Homo sapiens: one gene and its partners. The protein of the gene in region 1 interacts with the protein of each later gene in a pairwise test. Each region holds a gene or a part of one and is shown on either strand. Other genes may lie near its edges.

The links.
Region 2: the proteins of CLNK (region 1) and FAM217A interact in a two-hybrid assay, tested with the Homo sapiens proteins (one large-scale study listed by BioGRID and IntAct).
Region 3: the proteins of CLNK (region 1) and STK36 interact in a two-hybrid assay, tested with the Homo sapiens proteins (one large-scale study listed by BioGRID and IntAct).
Region 4: the proteins of CLNK (region 1) and GLIS3 interact in a two-hybrid assay, tested with the Homo sapiens proteins (one large-scale study listed by BioGRID and IntAct).
Region 5: the proteins of CLNK (region 1) and SFMBT1 interact in a two-hybrid assay, tested with the Homo sapiens proteins (one large-scale study listed by BioGRID and IntAct).
Region 6: the proteins of CLNK (region 1) and BMX interact in a two-hybrid assay, tested with the Homo sapiens proteins (one large-scale study listed by BioGRID and IntAct).

What each region holds. Positions count from the first base shown.
Region 1 is NC_000004.12:10,484,592-10,489,331, reverse strand, and holds the end of CLNK (cytokine-dependent hematopoietic cell linker), read left to right. Parts: 3' UTR 1-2,937; downstream 2,938-4,740. UniProt on the Homo sapiens protein: An adapter protein which plays a role in the regulation of immunoreceptor signaling, including PLC-gamma-mediated B-cell antigen receptor (BCR) signaling and FC-epsilon R1-mediated mast cell degranulation.
Region 2 is NC_000006.12:4,075,657-4,081,072, reverse strand, and holds the start of FAM217A (protein FAM217A), read left to right. Parts: upstream 1-1,935; 5' UTR 1,936-2,221; intron 2,222-3,017; exon of another isoform or gene 3,018-3,598; coding exon of another isoform or gene 3,599-3,658; coding exon 3,659-3,718; intron 3,719-4,593; exon of another isoform or gene 4,594-4,684; intron 4,685-5,416.
Region 3 is NC_000002.12:218,688,418-218,693,220, forward strand, and holds part of STK36 (serine/threonine-protein kinase 36), read left to right. Parts: intron 1-279; coding exon 280-459; intron 460-1,441; coding exon 1,442-1,539; intron 1,540-2,032; coding exon 2,033-2,138; intron 2,139-3,725; coding exon 3,726-3,876; intron 3,877-4,165; coding exon 4,166-4,293; intron 4,294-4,803.
Region 4 is NC_000009.12:4,296,566-4,302,008, reverse strand, and holds the start of GLIS3 (zinc finger protein GLIS3), read left to right. Parts: upstream 1-1,940; 5' UTR 1,941-2,588; exon of another isoform or gene 2,589-2,708; intron 2,709-3,512; exon of another isoform or gene 3,513-3,729; intron 3,730-5,443. UniProt on the Homo sapiens protein: Acts both as a repressor and an activator of transcription. Binds to the consensus sequence 5'-GACCACCCAC-3'.
Region 5 is NC_000003.12:52,905,880-52,910,682, reverse strand, and holds part of SFMBT1 (scm-like with four MBT domains protein 1), read left to right. Parts: intron 1-2,949; coding exon 2,950-3,128; intron 3,129-3,368; coding exon 3,369-3,614; intron 3,615-4,441; coding exon 4,442-4,570; intron 4,571-4,803. UniProt on the Homo sapiens protein: Histone-binding protein, which is part of various corepressor complexes. Mediates the recruitment of corepressor complexes to target genes, followed by chromatin compaction and repression of transcription.
Region 6 is NC_000023.11:15,552,807-15,557,019, reverse strand, and holds the end of BMX (cytoplasmic tyrosine-protein kinase BMX), read right to left. Parts: intron 948-4,213; coding exon 873-947; 3' UTR 501-872; downstream 1-500. UniProt on the Homo sapiens protein: Non-receptor tyrosine kinase that plays central but diverse modulatory roles in various signaling processes involved in the regulation of actin reorganization, cell migration, cell proliferation and survival, cell adhesion, and apoptosis.

The DNA of each region.
Region 1 (4,740 bases):
AAATTAGTGCTAATTCTTGCAGTAACGTTGCACAGGCCATGATATTATTCCCTGTAGAGGTTAAGAGGATTTAATTTTATTATTGTTTTACAATAAAGATGAGGAAACAGAGGCTCGAAGTAGCTATTGATCTTACTCAATATGAGAAGAGAGCCCAGATTGTAATCTGCTTTGCCTGGCTCCATGCAAGCTCATCTTCCCAGGTACATTCTCTGCGCTGTGACATTTTACAATCAAGTTGAAAAGCTAATTTAAAAAAAAAGAGAGAGAGAGAGAGAAAGATAGAAACAATTTGAAAATACAGATTTACCACCTTAAAATAAATAAACTCTTCTAGTGGGAATAAGCTTTTTTAAAAAACATACTGTCTGTCGAAAATAACAGTATATCATGATGTCAAATGCTACCAAAGCTTACAAAGGAAATTCATAGAGTATTTATGTAATTGTAGCATTGATGCAGAAAGAAAACCAAAAATAATTAAAAGGCAATAGAAGCAAATGAAAACAATAAAAACAATGTGCAGGATTATCTCTTTTGTAAGACAGCAGACAATGAGCTCTCTGGGAAAAGCTCTTAGCATCTACCCACTATCCAAATACCTGCTCAGGTGTTCTCCTTTCACAAGGTCAATGTGAAGTGATGCCTATAAGTTACATCAGGAGCATTTAATGAAGAAGCTATTTGTAAAGCTGGAACTTTTGAGACCCAGCTGAGCCTATCGTAGAGTATGCCTGCAGAGGATTACATAGAACCAAGAGACAAGAGTGTTTAAATTGGAGCTTGGATACGAAAGAACTCACTGGTCCGGTCAAAGCTAAAAGCTGTATGGTTGCTGGTCATTCTCTACTGGAATTCAACAAGCCAGGGACAGTATGGAAACAAGGACTTTACAGAAGAGCTCCAGGCTCACATTAAGAAGGAATCTGACCCTCACCCTAAAAAGCTATTGGGAGATTACTGATACCTCCAACTCACTGATTCATTGAGGCCATGCCATTCAATGCTATGTTCTCAAGAAATGTCTATGAGTCCTCTCAACCATTGCTGTTGATAAAATAGGTGAATGTCAAGTGGGGGTTAGCATTTGATAAGGTGTACGTTTGAAATAATATTTTATCGTCTCTTGTTCACAAATACAACATATAATTCCAAGAAGAAAAAAGAAGTAGAAATTCAGCATCCTTAAGATGACAGCAAGAATGAGGGGAAAAGGAAGAAAAAAAAGAAATTAAACATCTTGCAATAAAAAGCTTACAATATTTTTGTGTATTTGAACACTTCTGTAAAAAATATAAAATGGAAAATACTGACATGGGCTGCTTCTGGTGATTGGGGTTTGAGGGATTGGGTGTCGGGTTTTCTAGAACTCAGACACCAGGACAAAGTTAGAAGTGCAAACACTGATTGGAGGTTAATGTTTGAGAAAGATAAAAGGGAGAAGAAACAGAAGTATGGGTATGGGGTGGGCTTTCAGGCTCCCACCTGTGAGAGGGAAGAGGGGAGGTGTGGGGAGTGAGGAGAAAAAGCATGAGATTCAGACACAGCTCTGGGAGAGTTTTGGCCAGCTCATAGTGAGGCCCAAAGCAAAGTTTGCCCAGAGAGGAGACAGTGTTATGCTGGGCAGTAATGTCTGGGTCTTAGTGCCCCATCCTGTTAAGTCATTGTCTGGGGCTATCCTGGGAAAAAGAAAAACAACAAAAAAAAAAGACCTGCAAATGCTGTGGCCAATCCAGAAGGCGCAGCTGGACGCTGTCCACTAACTTGCTGGCCAGCAAGTTATTTCAATGGAGACTCAAGAGACCCACCTCTGGCCTGCCACAGCAACATCCTGAATTCACTGTTTTCAGTGTTGATTGTAGTAAGGACAATCACATTTACATTTTGCTTGTAATGGATGATTAAATAATAAGAGTATATAAATTCGATTGTATTTGTTTCTTACAACACTTCTGTAAAGAAGAGAGGGCAGCTATTTCTAATGCATTTTATAATTGAGGAAATTGTACCTCATTGGCCAAAATCTCACAGTGACATAGTCGCGACTGGAACCAAGGTCTCCATATGCAATTATCCTATTCATGGTCTACCTGCTTTATTAGATCTGTAATTGAATATTCAATGATTTGGATTTGGCATGCCCAAATTCCAGTGTTTTAATCCCTTTTCAACCATTACCTCACGTTTAGTTTAAAAGTATCACTTGATATCTGATTTCAATAGAGTAATAGAATTTTAGCTTTATCCAATTACAGCATTTATGCTTTCCAGATATTTTTTGGACTAAATAATTCTCATTCTGTATAAATGTGCATAGCCCTCATCATTAGTCATATATTGTGTTAGCACCTTTGTGTACTGCATGTGTATTCATTACTAAGCACTATTGTAGATGTTGAAAATAGAGCAGTGAATAAGAGAGATAGATGACAAATAAATATACAAACAAATAAGATAATCTAAGTCAGTTTCCCATTACTGGATTGGATTTCTATTTTAACACTTATTTCTGAGTACTTGTGGGGTGATGCCAACATTAAATGTTTTGAGGAAGCTCCTTTGAGATGGCTTTGAAAAGTCCTAAGTGAGAAAATTTAAAATTTTCCCAAACTTATTTATGTGGGGTGTGCATGTGTGTGCCTGTGCCTGTGTGCGTGTGTGTGTGTGTGTTTTTAAGTAACCGCATCATGGCTGTAATCAGTTAAGTCTCCTGTTCTAATTACTACGGAGGAATCAAATGAACCCCATTGTCGAATGTAGCCAATTATGTATGTGTGTACACAAATACAAATTTTTATGATAGCCTATATTGTATATTAGCATTATATTTGTATATCTTTTTTATTCTGAGCAATATTTGTTCTAGCTAAGCACATTTACATTCATAATTTACAGCCTTACTAATGTAAATAAAAGTAAATATGTAATTGAATGTTATAATTTTCTCTGTCTCTGAGTATTGAAGAAAGAAATTCAAAACATAGTTTAATTTTGTTTCATGCCCTATTACCCCTAAAGCTCTTTTGAAATTATATTTAGGGCAAATTTAGGATAAAATTACCAGAACAATTATTGACATATGAGCATTATGCTAGACTTTGGAGATAAAGACAAAAAAGACACAATCCCTGTGATTGTGAGCTCAGAGCCTGGCCGGAAAGATACACATGTAATAACCATCTTAATATGTGTAAGTTAATATCTCATTGTGGTTTTGATTTGCTTTTTCCCAATGATTAGTGAAATTGAGCACCTTTTCATATGCCTGTTGGCCATTATCAAAAAACAAAAGATAACAAATGTTGGCAAGAATGTGGACCAATGGAAACCCTGTACATTGTTGGTGGGAATGCCAAATGGTGCAGCCACTATGGAAAACAGTACTGGGTTTCCTTAAAAAATTAAAAATGGAACTATTATATTCAGCAATCCCACTTCTGTATATGTATCCAAAATAAATGAAATCAGGATCTTGAAAAGATATCTGCACACCCATATTCATTGCAGCATTATTCACAATTATTCCAAGATATGGAAACAACCTAAATGTCCATCAAAAATGAATAAATGGGCCAGGGATGGTGGCTCAGGTCTGTAATCCTAGCACTTTGGGAGGCCAAGGTGGGCAGATCACTTGAGGTCAGGAGTTCGAAACCAGCCTGGCCAACATGGTGAAACCCCGTCTCTACTAAAAATACAAAAAAAAAATCAGCTGGGCATGGTGGTGGGTGCTTGTGATCCCAGCTGCTCGGGAGGACGACACAGGAGAATCACTTGAGCTCGGGAGGTGGAGGTTGCAGTGAACTGAGATCATGCCACTGTACCCCAGCCTGGGAGACAGAGCAAGACACTGTCTCAAAAAAGAAAAAAAAAATGAATGAATCAATGAATGAACAAAATATGTTATATACATACAACGGAGTATTATTCAGCCTCAATAAAGAAGGAAATCTTGGCATATGTGACAAGGTGGATGAATCTGGAGGACATCATGCTAAGTGACATAGCCAGGCACAGAATGACAAATACTGCATGACTCCACTTATATGAGAAATCTGAAATAAACTCACAGGGACAGAGAATAGAATAGTTGTTGCCAGGAGCTGTGGGGAGAGGGAAATGGAGAGTTGTTGTTCAATGGGTATAAAGTTTCAGTTATACTAGGTGAATAAGTACTAGAGAGCTGCTGTATAGCATTGTGCCTATGGTCAACGAAAATGTATTACCTACTTAAAATTTTTTTAAGAATGTAGATTTCATGTTAATCATGTTAAGTGTTCTTACCACAAAAAGGGAGATGGGGCAGCAGGAAATGTTTGGAGGTGATAGATATGTTTATTGCCTTGAGTGTGATGATGGTGTTATGGATGTATGTGTATCTCGAAACTCATTAAATTAGATACATTAAATATGTCCAGTTTTTTAATATACCAATTATACCTCAATGAAGCTGTTTTATTTTTATTTTTATTTATTTTTTGTGAGACTGAGTCTCGCTCTGTCACCCAGGCTAGAGTACAGTGGCGCGATCTCGGCTCACTGCAAGCTCCGCATCCCGGGTTCACGCCATTCTCCTGCCTCAGGCTCCCAAGTAGCTGGGACTACAGGTGCCCACCACCGTGCCCAGCTAATTTTTTTTGTATTTTTAGTAGAGACAGGGTTTCACCATGTTGGCCAGGATGGTCTCAATCTCTTGACCTCGTGATCCACCCGCCTTGGCCTCCCAAAGTGCTGGGATTA
Region 2 (5,416 bases), on another chromosome or scaffold:
GGGCAGATATCACCTTCAAGGTGTTGAAAAGAAAGTGATTGAGACGTTGTAAATGAATAATTACAATGTAACTGAGTAAGGGGCTGTAATTAAATCATTATAACGAAGCAAGGATCTTGGAGGAGACAGCAACTTTTGTTTTCTCTCCTTTTTTTTTTTTTGTATTTTTTCTAGTAATTACACTTCCTGAACAATCAGGAAAAATGACTTGTGAGTTAGAAGTGTAATGACTAGAATTTAGGCAGGTTAAAAAAGAAAAGGAGATAAAAAGGAGGTACTATTACAGGAAGAGTAACAATGATGTATGCCCTGGAGGAGAGTGTTTAGGAAAATTGTAAAATGTCCGATGTGCTTGACATGTAGTGGGCGCTGGGAAGGTGATGAGCAGATACCTAAGGGATGGCTGCAGAATTAGGGTTTCCTCCTTCCGGCATTAGGAGGCAGTTGAGCAGGTCTGTATTTTAGAGCAGCAGTATGGAAAACAGCCGAAGGAAGAGAGGGCCCTAGAAGGGAAACCTCCAAGGAGGCTGCAAGGAATGAGGCCTGCACAAATCTTGTTCGTTCACTTACATCGATTGTGCTTCTACCACTGTGCTTCTACTATGTGCCCAGCACAGTTTTAAAGGGTTGGGGATACAGAAATGAACTAGACAGACAAGGCCCCGGCCCACATGGAGTTTGATATTCTACTGGGGAGAGACAGACAATACAAAAACAAACAAGTAAACAGCAAGATTATGAGGAGTACAAAGAAGTAAATAACAACGGGGTGTCATGAAATAGAGTAAGGTAGGTGGAAGGTGGGAAGAGCTTCTTTAAAGGGAAGGTCTTTCTGAGGAGAAAATGGAAATGCAGAGGAAAGAGTCAGGAGTCAGGGATCAAAGAACCTGAGAAACCCCTGACATTGTTTTCAACATGTGGTATATAAGTGCATTTTTATGGGGAGATTCTCAGAGGGACATGGCCGTGATCTCATCCCCCCAAATGTTTAGTATTCATTTGCTGTACCTAAATATATAATTAATTTTGTTTTAAATTTTTCTCTATATCAAAAGGTGGGGGTGATGATAGCTATGCAGATATATCTAACTAGATAGAGAGAGATTCTTCCCCCACCCCTCCACTTATTTCATGAAGCTGTAATAGGAGATATGCATTTCGGGGTACAAAATTGGGCTGTGTGATTTACATGTATCCTCTACATGAAAAAAGAAAAAAAATCATCTTTTGTTTTTCCTATTGAAAGGCCGACGACGGACCTGAAACTGACCGGATGAGCTTGGTGTCAACAAGGATGCCTCTTCTTCTATGTTAATATATTGTACAAGCATAGATATAACTTCACATGTATCAATGCGTATATATTGTAGCTTAGTCTGGAGGACTACGTACCGGGCGGTGCTCCTGGCTTGATGTGAGCAGGCGGTGGGAATGGAGGGTGGAGGCGGGTGGGCCGGGCCCCGGGTCCCAGAGGCCCACTGGCCATGTCGCGGAGAGCTCAGCCTGGAGAGGCCCAGGGAAGGGCCTGGAGGCCTCGGGGAAGGCCTGGGGAGGGTCAAGGAAGCCCGAGGAGGCCCAGGAAGGCCGAAGAAGGTCCAGGACGCCTGGGGGAAAGTCCGAGAAGGCCCGAGAAGGCCCGGGAGGCTCAGGCTTTCCCGCGAGGCCGGGGGCGGCCCCTTCAGGCCAGGATGGCCGAGTGGGCTGCGCAGCCCCGCGGGGGAGGCCGGGCGGGGCGCAGGGACAGGGCCTGAGGCTTGTTGTCCTCCCCTGGCGGCCCCGTGCGTCCCGCGGGCCCGGCGGCCGGGTGACCCCCGAGAGGCTCCGCGCCTGGGCGGCCGGCGGCGACCCCGCGGCCCGCGAATACGCGTGGACCTTGTGGAACGCCGGGCCTCCCCGGGCGCCCCCGCTCTCTGGTAGTTGCCGGGAGACCCGGCCGGTGGGGAAGCCCGCGGAGCCGCAGCCCCGGCCCCGGAAGGTCTCTCTGGGCCCCGGGCCCGACTCCCACCCCTGCGCCGGCCCGCGGGCTTCGCAGGCCCTGCACTGCCGACCGGGCTGCGCTCAAGGCCGCCAGCCGCCCGCCGCCCTCTTTGTCCCCCCGCTGCAGGAAGGCCGCGGCAGAGGGGGCGCCCTCCAAGCCGTCAGCCACGCACGCGGAGGCGCTCGGGCCTCGGGGCGGCGCACCGGGAGAGCACGCCGGGGAGGACACGTGGGCCTTCGCGCGGTGGGTTGAGAGCCCCGGCCCCGGGGAATCCCGCAGCCCCCTCCTGCTACCCCTGGAACTGGGCTCCCCACCCAGTCCGGCCACAGCTCAGGAGGAAAAGGGGATTCCTCTTCACGGGGGCCTTGCGGCTCCCTTGAGACACGCGCCTTCAAGCACTCTGGCCCCTAAAGCTCCTGTCCCCCAACTCGCAGTCCCCAAGGCGTCCTTTGTCCCCAGGGCCGTCCTTCAGGTGCGGTGGCCTTTTCCAGGAGCTGGATGCCCTCCTTCTTGACACACACCCGGTGGCCCCAGGCAGCGCCACCTGCTCAGCAACCGCCTTCCTCCTGCATTCAGACCTAGTGTCTGGCATGCACACACTCGTGGACCAATAACCGGTGTTGGCTGAAAACCTACCTAAACTAAATCTCCTATTTCTTCATACACTTTTCTGTAGGAGACAATCAATTGTAAACGATTAGCAGATAGACCGATTACTGCGGTGGCTTTAATTTGTGATTCTTGGCCGGGTGCAGTGGATCACGCCTGTAATCCCAGCACTTTGGGAGACTGAGGCAGGTGGATCACGAGGTCAGGAGTTCAAGACCAGCCTGGCCAACATGGTGAAACCCCATCTCTACTAAAAATATAAAAATTAGCTGGGCGTAGTGGTGCTCGCCTGTAATCCCAGCTGCTCGGGAGGCTGAGGCAGGAGAATCGCTTGAACCCGGGAGGCGGAGGTTGCAGTGAACCGAGATCGCGCCACTGCACTCCAGTCTGGGCAACAGAGCGAGACTCTGTCTCAAAAAAAAAAAAAAAAAAAAAAGTGATTCTTTCCAGATAGCCATACCTTAATCCAGTGACTGTTTTGCTTGTTACCTTAGAGTTCTCTAATTCTTTTACCTTAAACGGCAGTGGGTTAAAACCCTTTAGGTACCTTGATTGATTGGTGCGGAAAATATTGTTTGGTCCTGGGGGCATTTTGTTGTCTCCGAAATATGCACGGGGTGCTTGCCTGGCCTAGTTGTAAGGGTTCAACCCTGCTTTCAAATGGAGCAATTGTTTTGAATGAATAAAAGGAGACTTTGTGCCCCTGTTTTCTAAGTTCCAGATAATTCACCATAGTTTGTTCCAATGTGTATTTCATCTTCTTAGCTGATATTTGCTTTCTCACCTCTGATCTCAATTTCCTAATCTTCTGTTCTGAGATCTGCCAGTTTGCTGTTGTCTGTGCTCCTTTTGAGTCAGGCTTGCCCCTTGCTTCTGGTTGGTTTCGTACTGTCACCCCCACCCTGCTCTCCTAGCCCCTCTCTTCTGCTTTCTAAGCATTCTCTTACCTCCTTTAGATGGGAAATCAAAACTCACACTTTCTTTTTTATAAATGTTGACCCTTACCCATAAATGTGCCTATCCCGCAATCTGTGTAGGATTTTAAGGAAACAGAGCAACAGCTACAACAAAATGGGGAGAAGAAATGAGAACTGTGCTAACAGCCTACGTGTGTCAAACATCTCTCAGGAGGTATGGCAGGCGCTGTTGAACTTGAGTGTTTGGGCAGCGGCTCCTGTTGCTAACACGTAACTCCCATGGAGTTTTCTTGTAGTGATGCCCTTGCTGCGTTTGCATCGTGGGCAGTTTATCCTGTGTTTTCCTTTTGGCACATTTGGAACAGCAAATGGAAATTTTCTATTTCTTTTAACAAAGGGAAAATTAGCCAGCTCTTCTCCAAATGTCAAACATTTCTAATTGCAATTTGGCTTTGTTAAAGGTGCTGCCTTGTTATCAACCAGGCAGTGCTCACTTCTTTTGTTTTCACACACACACCCTTTGTGAAAAATATTGGTAAGGCAGGTGGGATATCACAAAGCATAATCAAGTCCCAACTCTTAAGAAATTTGCAAACTGTCAGACTTCATGTTTAGTTAATGAGCATTCTTTACCAGTTGATCAATTTGGTTATGTTAATTTTTTGTTGTTTTGGTGTTTTTTGTTTGTTTGTTTTGGAGACGAGACTTAGTCTTCCTCTGTCTCCCAGGCTGGAGTGCTGTGGCACGATCTCAACTCACTATAACCCCCACCTCCCGGGTTCAAGCGATTCTCCTGCCTCAGCCTCCCGAGTAGCTGGGACTACAGGCATGTGCCACCACGCCCGGCTAATTTTTGTATTTTTAGTAGCGACATGTTGGCCAGGCTGGTCTTGAACTCCTGACCTCAAGTGATCCACCCGCCTTGGCTTTCCAAAGTGCTGGGATTACAGGTGTGAGCTACCATGCCTGGCCTGGTTTCATTAATTTTATTTTAGAATTGCAACAACACAGTTTCATCAGCTGAGGATATTTCTCTCACGTGCATTTCATACAAAAGTATCAGGATTATATAGCTGAAAAAAGCTTAAAAATCCACCAGACATCGTAAAAAAGTCTGAAGGGGTGCATCTCACACATGAACATAAAAACCCAGTCATCGTGCTGTGAACTACAAAAGGATCTTTAAAATACAAATAACTGGGCCTCACCCTCATTCTTTTTTTTTTTTTTCTTTTTTTTTGAGACGGAGTCTCACTCTGTCACCCAGGGTGGAGTGCAGTGGTGCTATCGTGGCTCACTGCAACTTCTGCGTCTCGGATTCAAGTGATTCTCCTGCCTCAGCCTCCCAAGTAGCTGGGATTACAGGCACCCACCACCACGCCCAGCTAATTTTTGTATTTTTAGTAGAAATGGGGTTTCGACATGTTGGCCAGGCTGGTCTAGAGCTCCTGACTTGAGGTGATCTGCCCGCCTCGGCCTCCCAAAATGCTGGGATTACTGCCACTTGAGCCACTGCGCCCGGCCCTCACCCTCATTCTTTAAAATCAGGATTTGCAGCATTTTTTTGCAACTATTATTTTTAAAAAGCTCCCCAGGTGATTCTCATGTAGAGATTAGCCCTTGTACATATCATGCCAGAGAGCAGAGAATTAATTTTATTAATTATATTTTTCATAAATCTATAGAGAATGATAATCTGCAGTCTCCCTTCCAATGTTCAACTACCCTTCCTATCAGGAGATATCTCTTTGTGGATAAATTAATCCTCATGCTGTATTGAAGCTTATTTCTCTCTGTTCCTCCTTAGTGAAGAGATTGTATCTAATAATACCTCACATTTCATTTGCTTAGAGTTTAATTTACAATGCTTTTTTGAGACAGAAAACAATTGGGTTCATTCCTAAAAAGTTAC
Region 3 (4,803 bases), on another chromosome or scaffold:
GATGGGAATGGCACTTAGTCTGACAGAGATCCTGAGGAGAGGCCCCTATCCGTTGGTCACTGGTGTTCTGTGTTAGGTAACCTGACCATCTATTGTCTTCTTCCCTGGTACAGTTCCCCTATTTCCCTGCTTTCCTTCTCTGTGTTTTAGACTTGCAAAGAAAGGAATGCAAGCATGTGGTCTGCTTTCCCAGCTCCTTGGGGATGCTTGGTATGTGTAGTTCTCCTTCTTTTACCTCTGAAAATATCAATCGTTGCCTCTTTCCCTCATGTCACCCAGATCCTGAAAGGCATCTTGGAGGGTGCTTCCCACATCCTGCCTGCATTCCGGGTCCTGAGCAGTCTTCTCTCCAGCTGCAGTGATTCTGTTGCCTTGTATTCCTTCTGCCGGGAGGCAGGGCTTCCTGGGCTGCTGCTGAGTCTACTCAGGCACAGTCAGGAGAGCAACAGCCTCCAGCAGGTAAGCACCAGGCCAGAAGCCTCTGAAGACTTACAGAGGTTCTTTTTCTTGGATTTATCTCATTCAGATTGCCATCTCTCTTTGGTCTGACTGCCTTTTATTTTCTTTCCTCCTCTTTCTAGTTAGTAGACTATTAATTGCAAACTCTAATGCCTTCTGGGGCCAGGCAGATAAGGTCTGCCATGAAGTAGGCTATGCATGTGACTATATGAGTTGTGGGGAATATGATGAACTAGAGTTCACATGCCTCCTCTAAATAGAGTAGAGGCATCCTTTCCTCAGCCTCCAGCCCATTGTTGCCACAGGGAAATATGGGCCTGAGAAAACTAGCCAGATCTTCTAGTTTTCTAAGAAAAGGTAGAAACCCAAATTTTTATGTGTAATTTTTAAATATTTAGAGCGCTGTGCTTTGAAATGTTAGATCCTAGGCTTCATTGACCTGATCTTACAGAGCAGAGTACTAAAATTCAGAGGTAACTCATACACAGTCACTAATTTGTAAATGGTCACAGAGATAACAAGTGGAAGAGCTGGGATAGAGACTCAATGTGTTTGGGGCCAAACCTCTACTTCCCCCTGCTGTGTCCTACGGTAGCTGGACTGAGAGGATGGGGAATGTTTCAGAGTCAGTGTAAATGCCTAATAGGGCCTAGGATGAGGCAGCTGGAAAGCTGCACTTTGTTGATGAGTATTAATCTTGGGTGATTTTAAGGAATTTAGAGAAAAAGATTTTTGAAAAATAGAACCTCCTATACTCCAAAATGCTATTCAGGCCAAACAAGACACATTTAATCCAGGCTGTTCACAGCCCATTGGCAGATTCTCTGTTACCCCTAGAACTCTCTCTCTGCCTATACTTCTCTTCTGTCCCTTTCTGTTTGATCAACTTGACTGGGTCTCTATACACCCTTTCTACTGTTTTTTCTATTCTTTGTTTCCATCCTTCACATTGCCCTTACTCTCTTCTCCTTTTCCTGGGCAGCAATCTTGGTATGGGACCTTCTTACAGGACCTGATGGCTGTGATTCAGGCCTACTTTGCCTGTACCTTCAATCTGGAGAGGAGCCAGACAAGTGACAGGTAGGATAAGAAGTGCTTTTGCATTGTTGGCAAGTTTGGCTTCTGTTTCTACCCCAAGTGCCCTTCCCATTTAGGAACAGGCCAAGTATGAAGAAGCTGTGATTTGTTACAGGTTTAGGAATCAGCTGAGTGGCCACTCATAGTCCTTTTAAGGACCCTAAGACAGCTCCAACTTGGCCTCAAGACTTACAGTTTCTAAGAGTCAGCAGTCACCATGGTCCTAAAATGGAAGGGTCAAGATGTGAATAACCTATTCCAGGAAGCCAATTGGATTAAAGAAAGAAAGAAAGAAAAAAAATATGCGAATAACCTAGAGAAAATGGCAAAGAAGGGGCTTGGAGGGTGTATGTGTGTGTGTGGCAAGGGAGAAGGGAGGAACATTCTGATGTGTCCCTTTGCAGAGATTCTCCTACCTGCCCAGGACTGACCCATTCACCACATCCAGGCTTTTAGTAGAGAGATAAGAAATCATGGGCTCATTTTCCACCCCCAGCCTGCAGGTGTTTCAGGAGGCTGCCAACCTTTTTCTGGACCTGTTGGGGAAACTGCTGGCCCAACCAGATGACTCTGAGCAGACTTTGCGGAGGGACAGCCTTATGGTAATCTGCTCCCACTTCCAGATTTCTGTGTCTCCTATCATTCTCCGTGTTTCTCCCATCCCCTTTCTTATGACTATGTAGGGTCAGATCAAGTTAATATGACAAACATTTGTTAAATTCCCACCATGCCATATGCCATGTGAGTAAGAAAAAGTGCCTGCCTTCAAGGGACTAGGGATAATTTAATAGGGGAGAGGTAAAGGGATTAAGGACAACAGTGAAAAGTACATTAGAACTTTGCATATAATACAAGAGCACTGCTGTATTTTATGAAGAAGATGCAGTTAACCACTGCAGAAGATGCACTTAACACTATTTGGAGTATCATAGAAGAAATCTCGAAGAAGGAAATCATCTCTGCTAGCATTTGAAGAATACATCGCAGTTTGCCACGTAAATGAGGCACAAAGTAGAAATTCTATACAGAAAGAGTAACATATATAAAGGCCCAGAGGCTTTAAGCAGTTTGGCATATTTCAGGGGACCACAAATAGAACGACTTCTTCTTGAAAAGACTTGCAGATCATCTAGTATTGTCTAACCTCGTTTGTCCTGAGGATTAGTAGACTATGCAGTTCTTTTCCCTAGATCCTGGAGGTAAGGGACAGGAGAATGGAGGATTGAATGAGAAAATAGCTGTGTTCTGACTAACCTCAGAGGAGATAGAGAGGAACATATATTTGTAAGGAAGTAAATAATTGCCTGGTCATTGTTAAAACTGGTAATTGGGAACATAGATCTGGACTACTACTTGCCTTTAGCTAGCATTCACTCAGACTTTCCTGGTCTGAGATCCTGTTTTAATATCCCTCACCCTTTCAAGTCAGAAAGCTTTTACTGTCTAACCTAAATTTTGGCCAGCAGTGACTCATGCTATTGGCCAGCACTTCTCATGTCATATGCTATGAATAGAATGGGGAGTTTGGAATAATTACCTCCTGAAATTCTGAATCAGTAGGACTGAGTTGGGAGGGACCCAGGAATCCCTAGGATTTCTTCTTTTCTTTCCTTTTTTTTTTGGAGACAGGGTCTCTCTGTCACCCAGGCTAGAGTGCAGTGGCATGATCTTGACTCACTGCAACCTCCACCCTCCGGGCTCAAGCAATCCTCCCATCTCGGCCTCTTGAGTAGCTGAGACTATGGGTGCACACCACCAGACCTGGCTATTTTTTTTGGATTTTTAGTAGAGACAGGGTTTTGCCATGTTGCCCAGGTTGGTCTCAAACTTCTGAGCTCAAGTGATCCACCTGCCTCGGCCTCCCAATCCCCTGTTGGGATTACAGGCATGAGCCATTGCACCTGACCCCTAGGAATTCTTATACTCACAGTCTATAAAAAATACTTTGAGAAACATCATCTAGGGAGCATCTGATCAGAGAATAGAAGGATTGACACCTAAAATTATTGTCCTTGAAGCATGAATGAAAGCAGTTCTAATGCATTTTTGGTGTGAAGAATGCTTAAAATTAGACATGTGTTTGCTTTGGTTTTTGTCCTCTTTCCTCAGATCCTCAGGGTTTTCTTGTTTTTTACACTAAGCCCAGTCTTCTGATGCCCTGATGCTACCTCTGCACTTCTCTCCTTTAGTGCTTTACTGTCCTGTGCGAAGCCATGGATGGGAACAGCCGGGCCATCTCCAAAGCCTTTTACTCCAGCTTGCTGACGACACAGCAGGTTGTCTTGGATGGGCTCCTTCATGGCTTGACAGTTCCACAGCTCCCTGTCCACACTCCCCAAGGTAACCAGAGTGGAGAAGGGAGGTTCTCTTGACTTACTTGTTGCATAGGTCAGGCTCCGCTCTTTCTATTGCCATCACCTAGATCGCACCTGGCATTTAGTAGGTGCTCAATAAATAACTGTGAACTGAGAGAATGAATGGGGATCTGAGGGAAACAAACAGACCTCATCCTGCATTCTTCCCACTCCCTTAGGTTCCCTACTCCTGCTGCCATGTCGGTGAGTACTGGTGCTATTGTCTAGGGCAAGAGCCTCAGGCCTTTGGAGTTACTCTTTGCTTTTCTCCACAGGAGCCCCGCAAGTGAGCCAGCCACTGCGAGAGCAGAGTGAGGATATACCTGGAGCCATTTCCTCTGCCCTGGCAGCCATATGCACTGCTCCTGTGGGACTGCCCGACTGCTGGGATGCCAAGGAGCAGGTCCGAGCTACAATTGGTTGTTCCTCTCATCCTACTGCCAGAGGAATTGAGGAGGCTAGCCCCAGTTTTTCAGAAAGGCAGAAAAACAAGCTTTTAAGCCCCTCCTTTAGTACTTCCAGAAACAGATGCTCCCACCCTGGGCCATTTGTAGAACATGATATAGCCAGAATCCCAGAGCCCATGGCCAGTTGGTGAGGGAGAGAGCACAGTGATAAACTGCCCAGATGGTGGGGCAGCTGATCTGAAGCCTCCAGTGATGCTTCCTCAAGGGCTGAGAATTCAGCTTTCCTGATCCCTGTTGGTCGGTAATCCTTTCCTCTGTACCTGGCTACACTGGGGCCAAACTAGGCCATGACTTTTGGTTCTCTATTGGTGATGAAGACTGGGAATAGAATGGGGTCTGAGGTTTCTGGTGAATGTGGGAAGAGTGACTAGGAAGAGACTGAGAGTCCTGATCATTTTGGACATATGTGAGGAATAGGGTTGTAATCATGTGGATAGGATTGAGCC
Region 4 (5,443 bases), on another chromosome or scaffold:
CAGAAAAAAAAAAAAAGAAAAAAATTCAACCAAAGCACTATACCTCTTCAGTGGTAAATATTTTAGGAATGTTAGAGGTTCATGAAAATCACACCTAAATAAAATGACATTCCCACTCTTGGGCTCTTATAAATGAAGAGATTTTGGGGATCTCCAGGTTGATGACTCCTAACTTTCCCAGTGTTTTTTTCCATGAGCTATTGATTAAAGTTGGGTGTAGCACTATATTTTTTTCTCTTCCAGCTAAGCTGTTCCCATCATTTGGGAAGTTTTAGAAGCTTCTGCAAGCCCCTAGGATACCATTCTATGCATCAAAACCATTGTATTTAAAATGATATTTGAGGGACATTGGAAAGGTTTTTTGCAGTCTCCACCCAGGCTTGTCTTGCTCCTGGGAAGCAGTTGTACAGCACAAGAATCTGATGAACAGAAGTTCCCATGATGCATTGAAGGGTTAGTGTTGCCATCTTGCTCTGTTCCTTAAGGCTGGAGTTAATGAGGAAGAGTTTTTATGTGAATGTCAGGCATGTTGCAATAACTAGCCACAATGGAATAGTCATGGCAATTTCCACCACTTGGTTTCTTTGTTTTTGTGATGTTGCTGCATGCTTCATTTTATGAGTATTTTCTTTTCTTACGTGTGGTTGAGCCCATCTATTGCCATCTTGGGCTTGAATACTTGTATTTAAAAGAGATGAACAGAGAGAAACTGGAAAACTGACAGAATGACATATCCTGACCTCTTACTATTTTTCATCCCCTACTTCTGCTGACAAATATTCTGATGAGTTTGTGTCCCAAGGTGAAGGAAAAGAAAAGAAAAAGTACTGTGGAAACCAGGCTTCTTTTGGTTATGTTAATATCATGGATACAGACCAAGCCTAGTAGTATTCCCACTGAAATTAGATAAATGAAAACTGCCAATAGTCTTTTAGTTTTGGCTTTCTGGGGTAAGTCATTTGTGTCCTTGAGGACTTCTGTCTTGATCAAAGCATCTACTACCTGATTGCTAATTTATATTGGAGTGGTAACAGTAGAATAGAATATAAGGACTTGTGAAATTCTAAGTGTCTGGTGGCATCCTCACTCATTTCATTCATGATGGTGAATAATACTGTCAACTGCAGAAAGGCCTACCTGGAGGATATTGTGTGCATTACATACCTAGATTCCCAAGATGGAAGTCCTTGCATCTGTGGCAATACATGTGATGAACTACTAGGAGCAGACTTTCTTGTAACAACCTTTTGAGGGCTCTGGTCAACACAAGCAGAAGCGGTGGCGAGTCAGAGCTTAGGTGGGGTATGAGGCTGAGGATGTTGAATTCATAAGGATAAAGTGCCACTTTATAGACGTAACATACGCAGGGAATATACCTCCATTCTTAACAGCCTGTGTTCAGAATTTTATACCCTTCTAACACTTCCATCACCTTCCTCTCTTCCCTGCCTATACTTGGAAAGGATGCCAAAGCCTTCCTTAGTGCTTCACCTATCCAGTTTCGAAGCTGTCATGTGCATCCGATCCGATATTTCAAAGCAACCCTTTTGCCATTTTTCACTGTGTTATTCTCTCCGTATTACTACCGGATTTTTTTGGTTGTTTGTTTATTTTTTTATGACCTGACATCAAATCCTGTCTAAACACTAACACTTTTTCATGTTAAAATAAGTCAGTTTAACAAATAAGGCCAGGAAGAAGGCGAAGTGTCTCCCTGCTGTTACCCTGTTCTGGAGTTCCTCGACTTCTGGCGCACGGGGAGTGTGTGTGTGTGTGTGTGTGTGTGTGTGTGTGTGTGTGAATGCGTCAAGAGGGAGACACAAGCTCGGCCTTCGAATTGGCCAGCCTAGTGACCCGCGAGCCCGCCCCCACTCTTCCCCCTCCCCCTCCGGCGCTCACACTCAGGAAGCAGCTGGCTACAGGCCGGCCCTCGCGGCCGCACACACATCCACACTCCTCGCCCGGCTGCCTTCCTCCCTCCCTCTTCCCCCTTCCCCTCTCCCTGCAGCCGCGTCCACACTGCGCCGCCCGGGCAGCCCAGAGCGCGGCGCGCACGGGCACCGGCGGCGAGTGCCGCGGCCACTGCCCCTCCCGGGACCCCCTGTACGCCGTCCGCGCCGTCCAGGGTCACACCGGCGACGGAACCCGCCGGCAGCAATTAGCCAGCATCCCGGGGTCGGCCCCCAGAAGCATTCCCCGGCCCAGGACGAGGATGAACAGGACAGGCGAGGCACAAAGTCGCAACTGAACTTTTTAGAAACATTATTTGTGTGTGTATGTGTGTAGCAGGGGAGAATGAGCTGATGCCGAGGGTCCAGCCACCCCGCCTCTGCCTCCTCCTCCCCCTGCCGCCGCTGCCCTCGCAGACGCGCGCGCACACACGGCACTTGGGCCGGGTTTCCGCGCTCCGTCCCCCCGTTTGGATGGGGGTTTTCATTTCCGAAGGAGGCACAGCCCGCGGAGCGCTCTGAAGGGCTGGAGCCCCAAGTTACTCCTCGCCAGCGCCGGCCGCCCGCTGTCACTCGCGCTGGCCGGCCGGGGGAAGGGACCCGCACGCCGGGCTTTGTTGTGGAAATCCCGGTTACCTGGTAAGTGGATGCCATAGGAACTTTGCTCGCAGGCGAGAGACGAGGAGAAACCGGGCGCTTGAGAGTGTGGGGGAGTTAAAGCTCAGAGACGCAAACTAGGGATTACAAATAGTTTTCTACGCTGAGCCGGTGGCGTTCGCGCGGGTTTAAGGATACGCGCACCTCAACTCCCGGCGTCACAGGTCACTGAGAGACCTGCGCTGACTGAGACTGATAGCAACAATTAGGGTTCAAACCATGTTTCTGTCAGTGGCCTAAGAGCGCCCAGTGTAGAAGACAGATAACGGGGCTTTAAAGTTGCGCTAATTCGGAACAGTTTTTGTGTTTTCATTTCAAGTAGAGCGGGCAGAGGGGTACACAATCAGGGCACGTTACAGGACGCACGGGCATGGGGCGCACCACTCTGGAGTCCCCACTGAAGGGAAACTTTGGCGAAGTGGGAACTGATGGGGTGACGTGAGGTCTCTCGCGCACACGCGGGGCTGTAGTTGTCTTTTCAAGTTCCACGTGTTTGTGGAGTTTCACGAAGGCTGTTTTCCACGCCTGTGTCTCATCCAAGCCGGTGTCCCCATGATTGCGGGAGGTGGTCGGGCTGAGGGTACCTACACTCCTCGCGGGTACCGGCCCGGCGATCCGCAGCCGCCAGGTCTGGAACTATAACCTCCCACGCCGCCAGGACGCAGACACAGCCAGACACGAACCCTCCCCGCCGGGTTCGTCACCTCGCGTTTACATTTTTTATGGGGCCCGACAAAATGTCAGCACTGTTTGGAAAATGTCTCAGTCTCGGAGACGTTGTCCTGCGCGCGGCTCCAGTCCCTATAAATGACCCTGTGTGTATTTTGAAGTCGGCCCGGGTCGCTCTCTGGAAAGCGTGAGTGAGCCGCCGGCTCTCTCCTAGACACACACCTTGCCCCGAGCGACAGTTCCAAGTTACTCACTGGAGCTGACAAGTCACCTCGGGGACCGGGAAGTCACTCAAGTGTCTGGAAATCTTGGCCCTGGCTGATTTGTCATCCTATGGATGATTCAATTAGGTACCTGGCGGGAGAAACTTTGGGGAAGGGTTTCTGGCTCCGCGTTCGCGCCCTCCGACTTGCTGGAGGTGTTTGGGAGGCGAGAAGCGAAAGGAAACCACAGGGTGAGGACACTGGCTCGGCGGGGACCGGGGGGCCGGCGTGGGGGGACTGCGAGCCCGGCCGTGGCGCCCCCGGGCTACAGGCTCCGGCCAGGCCGGGCAGCGCGCGCAGGTCCCCGGCGCCCGGGCTTCCCAGCCGCAGCACCCTTTCGGCCCCCGACTCACTCAGGAGCGAGTTGCACAACAGGAAGCCGGCACTAGTTTGTTTTGTTGCGCTGCGTTCGCTCCCTCGCTCGCTCGCGCACGGGGCCGAGGGTTAGGGGCGGAGGCGGCGGGGGAGTGACGGGGTCGCAGCCGCGCGTACCCCGCCGGGCGCTGTCGCCTCCGCCTCCGGACCCGCCCCTAGCTCCGCGCCGAGGAATCTCCGACCCCGGCAGCGAAGCCAGTCCTATAGGGAACCGATAAGGGCCGCCCTCCTCCTGCCTTGTCCTACGCGCCTCTCCCCCGCTCCCGGCACCTCTCCCGACTTCTCCAGCCCTCCTCTTGGCAGGAGTGGTCTCGAGGACTGAGACCACTGCTCTGTGTGCCTCCTTGAGCCCCACGCTAGTTTGCCCCGGTATCCGCTTGGCCCTCATCTCTGGAGCATGTAAACCTGGGGAAGGGGTAGGGAGGTGCTTCCGGAATCACAGGGAGTAGGGTCCGTAGAGACAGGACTCGTGGAGTCGCGGCCCCGTTTCACAAAGAGGGTTGCTCTTGCACCCTCTCCCCGAGCCGGCAGAACCAACTTCCTCCAAGACTTCAGCATCTCCCGAGAGTTGGGGCCCCAGGGCCCTGGAGTTTGTGAGAAGAGGGAAGTTCTGCAGCTCCCCCCAGTGGACCAGGTCCCTTTAGTATGGGGCCGGGAATCTCGAGGAGAGACTATTAAAGCTAGAGTGGACCCTGGCTTCACCTGATGAGGAAACCGAGCCCCAGAGACGTTAGAGGTTTTGCCCAAGGCCTCACAGCCAGTTGTCGCAGACCCTTAAAGTTCTCAGGTCCCGGTTAAGAGAGCATTTCTTGGCTCGAAGATGACCTCAAGACAAATGCAAAGTCTGGTTCTGTCCCCTCTGAAAGCTTTGATGAGTCATGATTTCTGCCTTGGGAGTAAGCCAGACTTCTGTTTCACCCTCTGTCTTGTTCCTCACTGGACCTCCCTTTTTAGACTAAACTTTTTTTTTTTTTTGGGTACAAAATCGACTTGTGTTGGTTTAAACCTTCCTACTTCTTCTCTTTTATCTCCTCCTAGTTTGTTTCCGCTGGTTCTGTGTGAAGCAGGTGCAACCTGTAAAGGTTTGCAGAAAAAGAATCCGCCACGATGAAGGTCGTTCTGAGAAAGTTTGAAGCAATTTAGACAGGAGAGTGTTAGATTATATGCATTTTTTTTTTTTTTTTTTTTTTTTGCAATTGAGAACAAGCTGAGGTGTAAGGATCATCTATAACCGTACTGCAGTTTTCATTTATTTTCACTGGTCATCTGCGCAGCCAGACTAGCTCTGAGGCTACCTTTGAAAGGAAGTGTAGGGGACATTTTTTTTTCGCTATTTTCAAAACACCTGTCCTTATTGGTAGTTTGTAATTGCTTTCTTTTCTTGCCCAGAAGACTCAGTAATCCTTGAGTATGAGTAGATCAATTTAAGTGCTGCTGTTAACTTCTCCCCTTGGTTCACCTTAGGCCAGTTTGGGGACAGCATCGTTGATCCCCTGATTCCACTGAAGTTCCTTAGTAGGCAGGTTATCA
Region 5 (4,803 bases), on another chromosome or scaffold:
ACCCCGTCTCTACTAAAAATAGAAAAACTAGCTGGGTGTGGTGGCACCTGCCCGTAATCCCAGCTGCTTGGGAGGCTGAGGCAGGAGAATCACTTGAAAGCGGGAGATGAAGGTTGCAGTGAGCTGAGATTGCGCCACTGCACTCCAGCCTGGGTGACAAAACGAGACTCTGTGTCTCCAAAAAAAAAGAACCCTTTAAAAAATGTAAGGGTAATTTTTGGCTTGGGGGCTATACCAAAACAGGTCATGGGCCAGACTTGACTCATGGGCTTTAGTGTGCCAACTTTTATATATAGCATGTATATAAATTAGTTATTGTATCTAATAGGATATGTAATTCATTCATACAATCTGCAAGTATATATTTTGTGCTCATTGTGTGCTTATGCTGCTCTAGCACTGGGATACAACAATAAAGAAAACAAATTCCTATCCTCAGTGAGTTTACCTTTAATGTGGGAGACAGATAACAAACAAGGGAAGAAATTTAGAGAGGGGTCAGTATTTAGAGAAATACTGTGGGGAACAGTGAAGCAAGGTGGGCAAGCAAAATAGGACAGTGAGGAAGGCTGGGAGGTGGGGTGCTGTTTATGCAAGGGGTCAGGGAAGTCTTTCTGACAGGTAACACCTTGAAGGAAACAGGAGCCAGCTGTGCAGAGAGCTGGGTGGGAGTGTTCTGGGGAGGGGGCATCAAGGGCACAGGCTTGAGGCAGAAGCTTGCTTAGTGTCTCTGAAGAGCAGCAATGAAGCCACACTAGTTGGGGAGGTGGAAATAGGAGAGGAGGTAGTTGCAACCTCACCTTGAACTGTCATAGCACCTATTCGCTGTCCTTGCTTATCTTCTTTGAGAAACTGGGGCAGGGGTCACATAGGATGAAATTTACAATTTGGAGCCTTGTCAAGGCATTGCCACCCAAAGACAAAATTCTGATCCTACCTTTCCTTAAATCCTACAAGCCCTATGTCACTTGGGAGAATCACTACAGAGGAGGATTTTTACCTTGTTAAAATGGAAAGATTTCTTTTAGGGATCTGTGCCTCTTAAACTATAGTGCATGCAGATCACTGAAGGATCTTGTTAAAATGGAGCTTCTGATGTATCAGGTCTGTGGGTATCTGGGTCCTGAGTATCTATCTGCATTTCCAACAAGTTCCCAGATGCCACTGATGCTATTGATCCAAGGTCCATACTTAGTATGACGAGCTTTCTAATCAGTATTTAAATTACAAAATCTTATAAGTCTAACCTTCTAGTTTCTATTTATATTTATTGGATTGTAAACTCCTTAAGAGTAGGAATTATCTTAGCTTCTTGTATCAGACTCAGCACTTAGTTTAGGAAACTGCAATTATTAGGAGCTGAGTGAAAAATACTATTCATGTAAATGCATATATAAGCACACTACTCTGAAGGAAGATATGTGAGGGGAAGATATGTGGATTTTATTGTGCCTTTTGTCTGAATTTATCTTTCACAATAATATAGTTGAAATTAGCCTAGAATTTAGAAGGACAGTTATAATTTTTCCCAGTTAGTAATTTGAATGATGTCAAATGGATTCGTATCCTTTAGAAAATTTCCATTTTTTTCACAAAATTGTATTATATTTTGATATTACTTTAATACATAACTCAGCTAGAATATGTATGTTTCATTTCTGGAATGTATATTCTAAAATTTATATGAAAATGCAGAGGATCTAGAATAGCTGAAACAATTTGGAAAAAAGAATAAAGTTGGAAGACTTAGTCTCTCTCTTTTTTTAACCATAAAGTTATAATAATCAAGAGTGTGGCATTAAAGAATAGTCAAGCCGGGTGCGGTGGCTCACACCTGTAGTCCCAGCACTTTGGGAGGCCGAGGCAGGCAGATCACCTGAGGTCAGGAGTTCAAGACCAGCCTGACCAACATGGTGAAACCCCGTCTCTAGTGAAAATACACAAATTAGCTGGGCGTGTGGTGGCAGACGCCTGTAGTCCCAGCTACTCAGGAGGCTGAGGCAGGAGAATCACATGAACCCAGGCGGTGGAGGTTGCAGTGAGCCAAGATCACGCCACTGCACTCCAGCCTGGGTGACAGACTCTGTCTCAAAAAAATAGAACAATGGGACAGACCACAGGGTCCAGAAATAGAGCCAAACTTAACATGGTTAAATGATTTTCAACAAGAGAGATGAAGAAATTTAAGGGAGAAAGGAAATTCTTTTTAACAAATAGCACTGGTACAACCAGATATCCAAATAGAAAAGAAACATATAATAAAACACACGACTCAAAAACATTATGCCTAGTAGAAGAAGTCACACATGGCTGCTGGACGTGGTGGCTCATGCCTGTAATCCCAGCACTTTGGGAGGCCAAGGCGGGCAGATCATGAGGTCAAGAGATTGAAACCATCCTGGCCAACATGGTGAAACCCCGTCTCTACTAAAAGTATAAAAATTAGCCGGGCATGGTGGTGTGTGCCTGTAATCCCAGCTACTCAGGAGGCTGAGGCAGATGAATTGCTTGAACCTGGGAGGCAGAGGTTGCAGTGAGCCGAGATCGTGCCACTCCACTCCAGCCTGGCGACAGAGCAAGACTCCATCTCAAAAAAAAAAAAAAAAAAAAGTCACACACAAAAAAGTGCTTACTGTGTGGTTCCATAGAGGCAAAGCTAATCTATAGTGATAGTGTTTAGAATAGTGGCTGCTTCTAGTAAGGGGTACTGACTGGGAAGGGACCATGGGAGCTTTCTGGGTTGAAGATGTTCTATATACTTTGATATGGAGGGATCATTCAGTACTAGTCAAACCGTGCACTTCAGATCTGTTTATTCCACTCTATGGAATTTAAACCCCAATCAAATACAATGTACCTGTTTTTTGCTATGCTAATAAAATCTCTTGTGGTTTTGAGGTACACAAAAATAATGAAGCTACTTCATTTTTCTTTGTCATCCACATTTAGCACACTATTACGGAAAGAAGAAAAATAAAAGAATTGGGAGGCCACCTGGTGGGCATAGTAACTTAGCTTGTGCCCTGAAAAAAGCCAGTAAGAGGAGAAAGAGGCGGAAAAATGTTTTTGTTCATAAGAAGAAACGCTCCTCTGCATCTGTTGATAATACCCCAGCGGGCTCTCCCCAGGTATGAGATCTGTGATGTGCCTGTAATGTCTTGAAGCCAAGTGACCACTGCTTTATAGTATGGACACAGAATACCTGCAGGTCTTTCTAACTCAGATCTCTGGCCAATAGAAGATGGTTTTGTGGCCCAAGAACTGGTTTGTCCTGAATTTCTTTTCTTTCTTTATTATTTTTTTTTAATCATATGAAACCTGGGATTGATGTCCTGAATTTCAATGAGACTTCTCTCCTTTTCCTGCAGGGAAGTGGGGGTGAAGATGAGGATGACCCAGATGAAGGGGATGATGATTCCCTAAGTGAAGGCAGTACATCCGAGCAGCAGGATGAGCTACAGGAAGAATCAGAAATGTCAGAAAAAAAGTCATGCTCCTCTTCTCCCACCCAAAGTGAGATATCCACATCGCTGCCTCCAGATAGACAAAGGAGAAAAAGGGAGCTTCGCACCTTTTCATTTTCTGACGATGAAAATAAACCTCCTTCACCAAAGGTACCATTTAAAAAATAGTTTCTTTTTTCTTTCTTTCTCTCTGGAATTTCCATCTGGAATATGATTATTAGTGATATTGACATTCTACTTCTTTCAATACAGACTTATGTAGAATTTCCAGGGTCTCTTGTAAAGTGACCCCAAATGCAGTGATTTACATGTGTTTCAAGGATTAGTTGAGATCATCTACTTATAGGGGGAAAGTCTCTCTCAGAGTAGCTGCTTGTTTTAACAACAACAACAAAAAAAGCCCCATTGCTAGCTTATTTGTAGCTTGTCATTTATTTTTGGGAAAACTGCCTTTTTAATATGTTTCATAATATATATGGTTTTGTAGAAAAAAGTTATCCTTTTGATTCTGGTTAAGCCATTTGGCTTAATATATTATTTACTATATACATATGAACATTTTATAACATATGTATAACACTAAAGAACAATTTAGTGTTCAAAAACTAGATTGCTTTTTAAGAATATTCCATGAACAGAAGCAGTAAAGATTCCTCCTGGTAGTTTAGTTAAGCCTTCTCTCAATGGAATTATCATCCCCTTCTCTTCAGCACCCTGTTTTTCTTAGTTAAATTGTCTAAATTATCTGTGCTGGAACTTTGAGATAAATTCTTTCCCATTGATACTTCGTATTATAAAAGACAGACATTTCCTGAGTACCTGATGCACGTGGGTCTTTGCCATCTTTGCTGGGAGAAATCATGTCCTAAGACCACTTTAAATCATGTCTTGAAAGATTATGAATTTAGGTAGAGAGACTTTTTTAGAATAAAATAGCCGTAACACCATTTGGTTTGATTGTGTTGTGGGGAATGAAGGAAATAAGGATCGAAGTTGCTGAAAGGCTTCACCTGGACAGTAACCCCTTGAAGTGGAGTGTGGCAGACGTTGTGCGGTTCATCAGATCCACTGACTGTGCTCCATTAGCAAGAATATTCCTAGACCAGGTAATCACAGATACCTATAATTTTTAGTAATGTCTCTTTAGCAATAAATTATGGATGTAATAGTCAACAATTTATTTACAAGTTTTAGGAAAAATGTTTTGATCCAAAAGACAAGAATTGTCTTAATTCCATTTTTAGGAGTCAAAGATGATAAAAAGTTATTTATCAGACTTGCTTCATAGTTGAAGGAGATTATCATTGCATTCCAGTTTTTCCTAAGAATTTGATTCCAT
Region 6 (4,213 bases), on another chromosome or scaffold:
GGCAACTTGAGTCTTTGCTCCCAGGTTATAATCCTTAAACTTGACCCAAATAAACTGTCTACTTATATAAAAAAAAAAGATGATTAGAAAGCAACAATGTAATTAATTCTAGAAATTGTACCTCAGCATCTTAAAAAATTTGCTTTATGTGAACATATTTAATGTATTATTTAATATTATTTAACTTTAGTTTTATACATGACATAAAGAGTCATTGTACTAATCTGGATATTAGACGAGAATTGTGCCATTTGGATTGGGTAATGGACCACCTAATGATACCCCACCATATAATGAGGTCCCCTAGGGCAGTTCAGAACAACTGCTTCAGTAACATCTGGGAGTTTGCTAAAAATACAAATTCACAGGCTGCACTCAGACCTCCTCCGCCAGGTTTTATGGAGGTAGTTTCTAGGAATCTTTTCATAAACTCTGCATTTGATTATCATGCCTACTGAAGTTTGAAAACATTGAAATATTAAGACAAATGTCCACATTTCTGTACTTGGTAGTATATTTAATTGTTGTGACAATGACAATATAAAGAAAAGAATGAATATCCAATAAGTAATTTTTCAGTTCTGCTCAGTCTTTACACATGAACACAGTCTCTATATTGCAGTCTGAAAATGTGCTTCTGCTATAGGCTGGAAAGTGTTATATCAGGAGCAGCATAAACAAAATTACTAATTTGATCTAAATTTCAAGGGAATCTTTTGTTTCCTGCCTTGTTCATTTCTAAATAATAGACAATACAGAGAACACTATTAAAAACTAGCTAAATTACATTATGCCTTGCTACTTTCCTTAAAATGAATGAAAATGCTGGCCAGCATCTATATTCATTCTTATCAGCACTCCTAATTTCTTCTTCAATGCTTGTCTTTTTCCCGAAGTGGTTCAATGGAAGACAGGAGTTGCTGAAATGTGGGACGCTTTTCTGGAAGCTAAACAAAAACAACAAGAAACCCAATGTTTTAGATGATGAGAGTTATGATCAATGATAAAATATATAAAATATTTACATCTAAGTCCTAAAGCTAGCAACTTTTAAAATGTGGAAACACAACAGACATTTCAATTGAGGTCAGAAATAAGGCAAGGACGCTCACTATAATAATCACTCTTAACATTATGTTGAAGGTGTTAACCAATGCAATTGGAAAGCAAGAACAATTAGAGCCCCAATAACTGGAAAAGAAAAAGTCTCTTTATTTGCAAGCATTTTAGTGTATACCTGGAAAATCTGAGAGTATCAATGTTAGAACAGACTTAAAGAATAAAGGAATTCACTAGGAGAGCAGGATATAAAATTAACATACAAAATCAATAGCCTTCACATATACCTACAGTAACCACTTAGAAGTTATCATGTAAGAGAAAACCCCATTTATAATAGCAACGCCACCAAAATAAAACACTAAAAAAGTGTGCCCCTCTAAAATGGGGACGACTTTAAAACACTGCTGAAAAATGCAAATGTAGACTTGACTATATAAAAAAGCATCCCTGGCCAGGCGCAGTGGCTCACGCCTGTAATCCCAGCACTCTGGGAGGCTGAGGTGAGTGGATCACTTGAGGCCAGGAGTTCGAGACCATCCTGAACAACATGGCGAAACCCTGTCTCTACTAAAAATACAAAAATTAGCCAGCTGTGGTTGTGCACAACTGTAGTCCAAGCTACTCGGGAGGGTGGGACATGAAAATCACTTAAGCCTGGAAGGTGGAGGTTGCAGTAGGCCTAGATCATACCACTGCATTCCAGCCTGAGTGATAGAGCAAGACTCTGTCTTAAAAAAAAAAAAAAAAAAAAAAAAAGCTTCCCTCGTTCTAGACTAGGACAAGTCAGTATCATAAAGATGTCAAATTTCCCAACTTAAAATACAAACTAAATACAATCTCCTCAAAAATATGAATGAGTTTGTTTCAAGCTAAACAAATTGATTCTTTGGTTTATAGAATTAAAAAATATGTAAAAATGGCTAAGAAATTATACAGTAAGGTGAGCAATGAGGGGTGCTAGCCTACCTAGTATTCAAACATATCATAAAGTCTCTACAGAATCAGAGCAGTGTGGTGCTAGCACATGAACAAAGAGACCAAAGAACAGAAGAGGAAGTCTCCAAATAGATTCAAGTACATATGGAAATTTAGTATAATATTAGGGTGGCATTTCACCACCATTAAGGTGGTATCTCATTCCTGATGATAAGATGGTCTTTTAATAAATAGGGCTGCCAACAACAGAATAGTCACATAAAATTATATATTTGGAGCCATATTTAATACCATATACCATAACAAACACAAACTATATCAGAAACATAAATGGAAAATAATGCAATCTTAAAAGTACTAGAGGAAAATCCTGGCAAAAGTCATTATAATTTGGGCATGAGAAAGCCTATCTATGACAATTTCCAGAAGCAATGAAAACAAATATTGATATATTCAGCTATATTAAGAAAAATTTCTGCATGGTCAAAAAAAGAAAAAAAAACCCACCCACCCTCAATCAAATAAAGCTGATAACTTAAAGTATTACTCTCCCTAATTTGTAAAGAGATCTTTAAAACCTGACAGAAAAAAGAAAAAAGACATGACAGTTCAGAAAGACACAAAATGACCCTTAAAAACGTGAAAAGAGGCTCAACCTCATAATGAAAGATATATATATTAAAGCTGCACTAAGATGCCATCAAGCTTTCACTTATCAGATTGGCAAGAATTCTTCAAAAGCTTGACAATGCACTCCATTGGTGAGGTTATAAGAAAATAGGTACCCTCTTACATTGCTAGTGAGGCAACGCCTATGGAGAGGAGAAGTTCATATGCTACTTTTTCTTTGTAAGAGAGAAAGGGAAGCAAGAAAACACACATCTATACATATGCTTGTTTTTGCATACAGAAATACCAGAAGGATGAATCAAAATCTAATGAAAATTGTGAATGTTCTTTCAATCTCTTTATGAATTGAGAAAGTCACAAAATAAAATCTAAAAAAGGAGGGAAAACCCAAATCTATAAGCTCTGCTCATTAGGTGCAATGTTTTAACTGGATATTGTCGTCTCAGTGCAAACCCCTCTTCACAGATTCTGCCACAATTCACATGCTTTTATGAACCAACCATGAGAAGAAGGCAGTTCCTCCCGACTCAGGGCCCCTGTCCATCCTATGGTGCAGTCATATTCCCAGGAGCTAGAGTAGGGAGGGCCAGGGAGGTTCTGGGCTTCAACTGAAAAACCCTTGTCTGCTCTTCTTCATCTGACAGGTGACAGCAGTAAGTCAGCCTGGCTGTGACCAACTCTACCCAGACCCAGTCTGACCCTCTAGTGCTGCCTGATAATCTTAGACACAATATTTTTGTTTGTTTGTTTCTTTAAAAAGCCTTTATTCATTTTTTAATCAGGGAAAAGGACAATCTCAATGTCAATTTGTCACCTAATCATAAATTTGAACTTACAGGATTCGCTACCCTAGACACTGCACCTACTGACAACACACAACTTAAAAATGAACTTCCTTCCATTCCCTAAAGTTAGATAGTTGCATGTTGAATGAATAAACAGAATCCCTTCCAACAGCTAACATTGGTACTTGGCCTAGGTGTAAGGACAAATAGCGAAACAGCAGCAAAAAAGACCAAGAGCATTGTAACTTGATAGCCCAGCAAGTACAATCATTGTAACAAAGTTGTAGGCACCAAATTAAAAAAAAGCGGGGGCTCATCAGCATAAGAAACTTACACCAGTTTTGTGAGAGCACTCGTTGTGTGAGATCAACTACTCTGCCTGTGAACACATATGCCAATCCCAGTAGCTAACATTGAGGCAAAGGTCCCAAAATCCAACTAACTACACTGAATGCAAAATCCAAAGCTTTTATTTATCCAGGTCCTCTGAAACCTGGATATAAAACAGTTTCTTTTCAATGCACCATGAGGGTCCACTGTAATGATTCAGTCACATTTGGATTGAGTAACGCACCTAAGATACCTTTTCCACTATTCCTGTCTGAATACGGAAATGTTTAACTACTCAGTTCATGCACTAACTGTGTTAAAAGTTAGATTTACTATCAAGACTTTTTCTAAACTCACACAGCATTAACAGTTAACTGTAATACAGCTTCCTCAGAATGCCCAAACAGAAAATATTTTGTTCAGTCTTGTGGTGGCTGTGAGAAAACAAAATACAACTAAATCTTATTTTG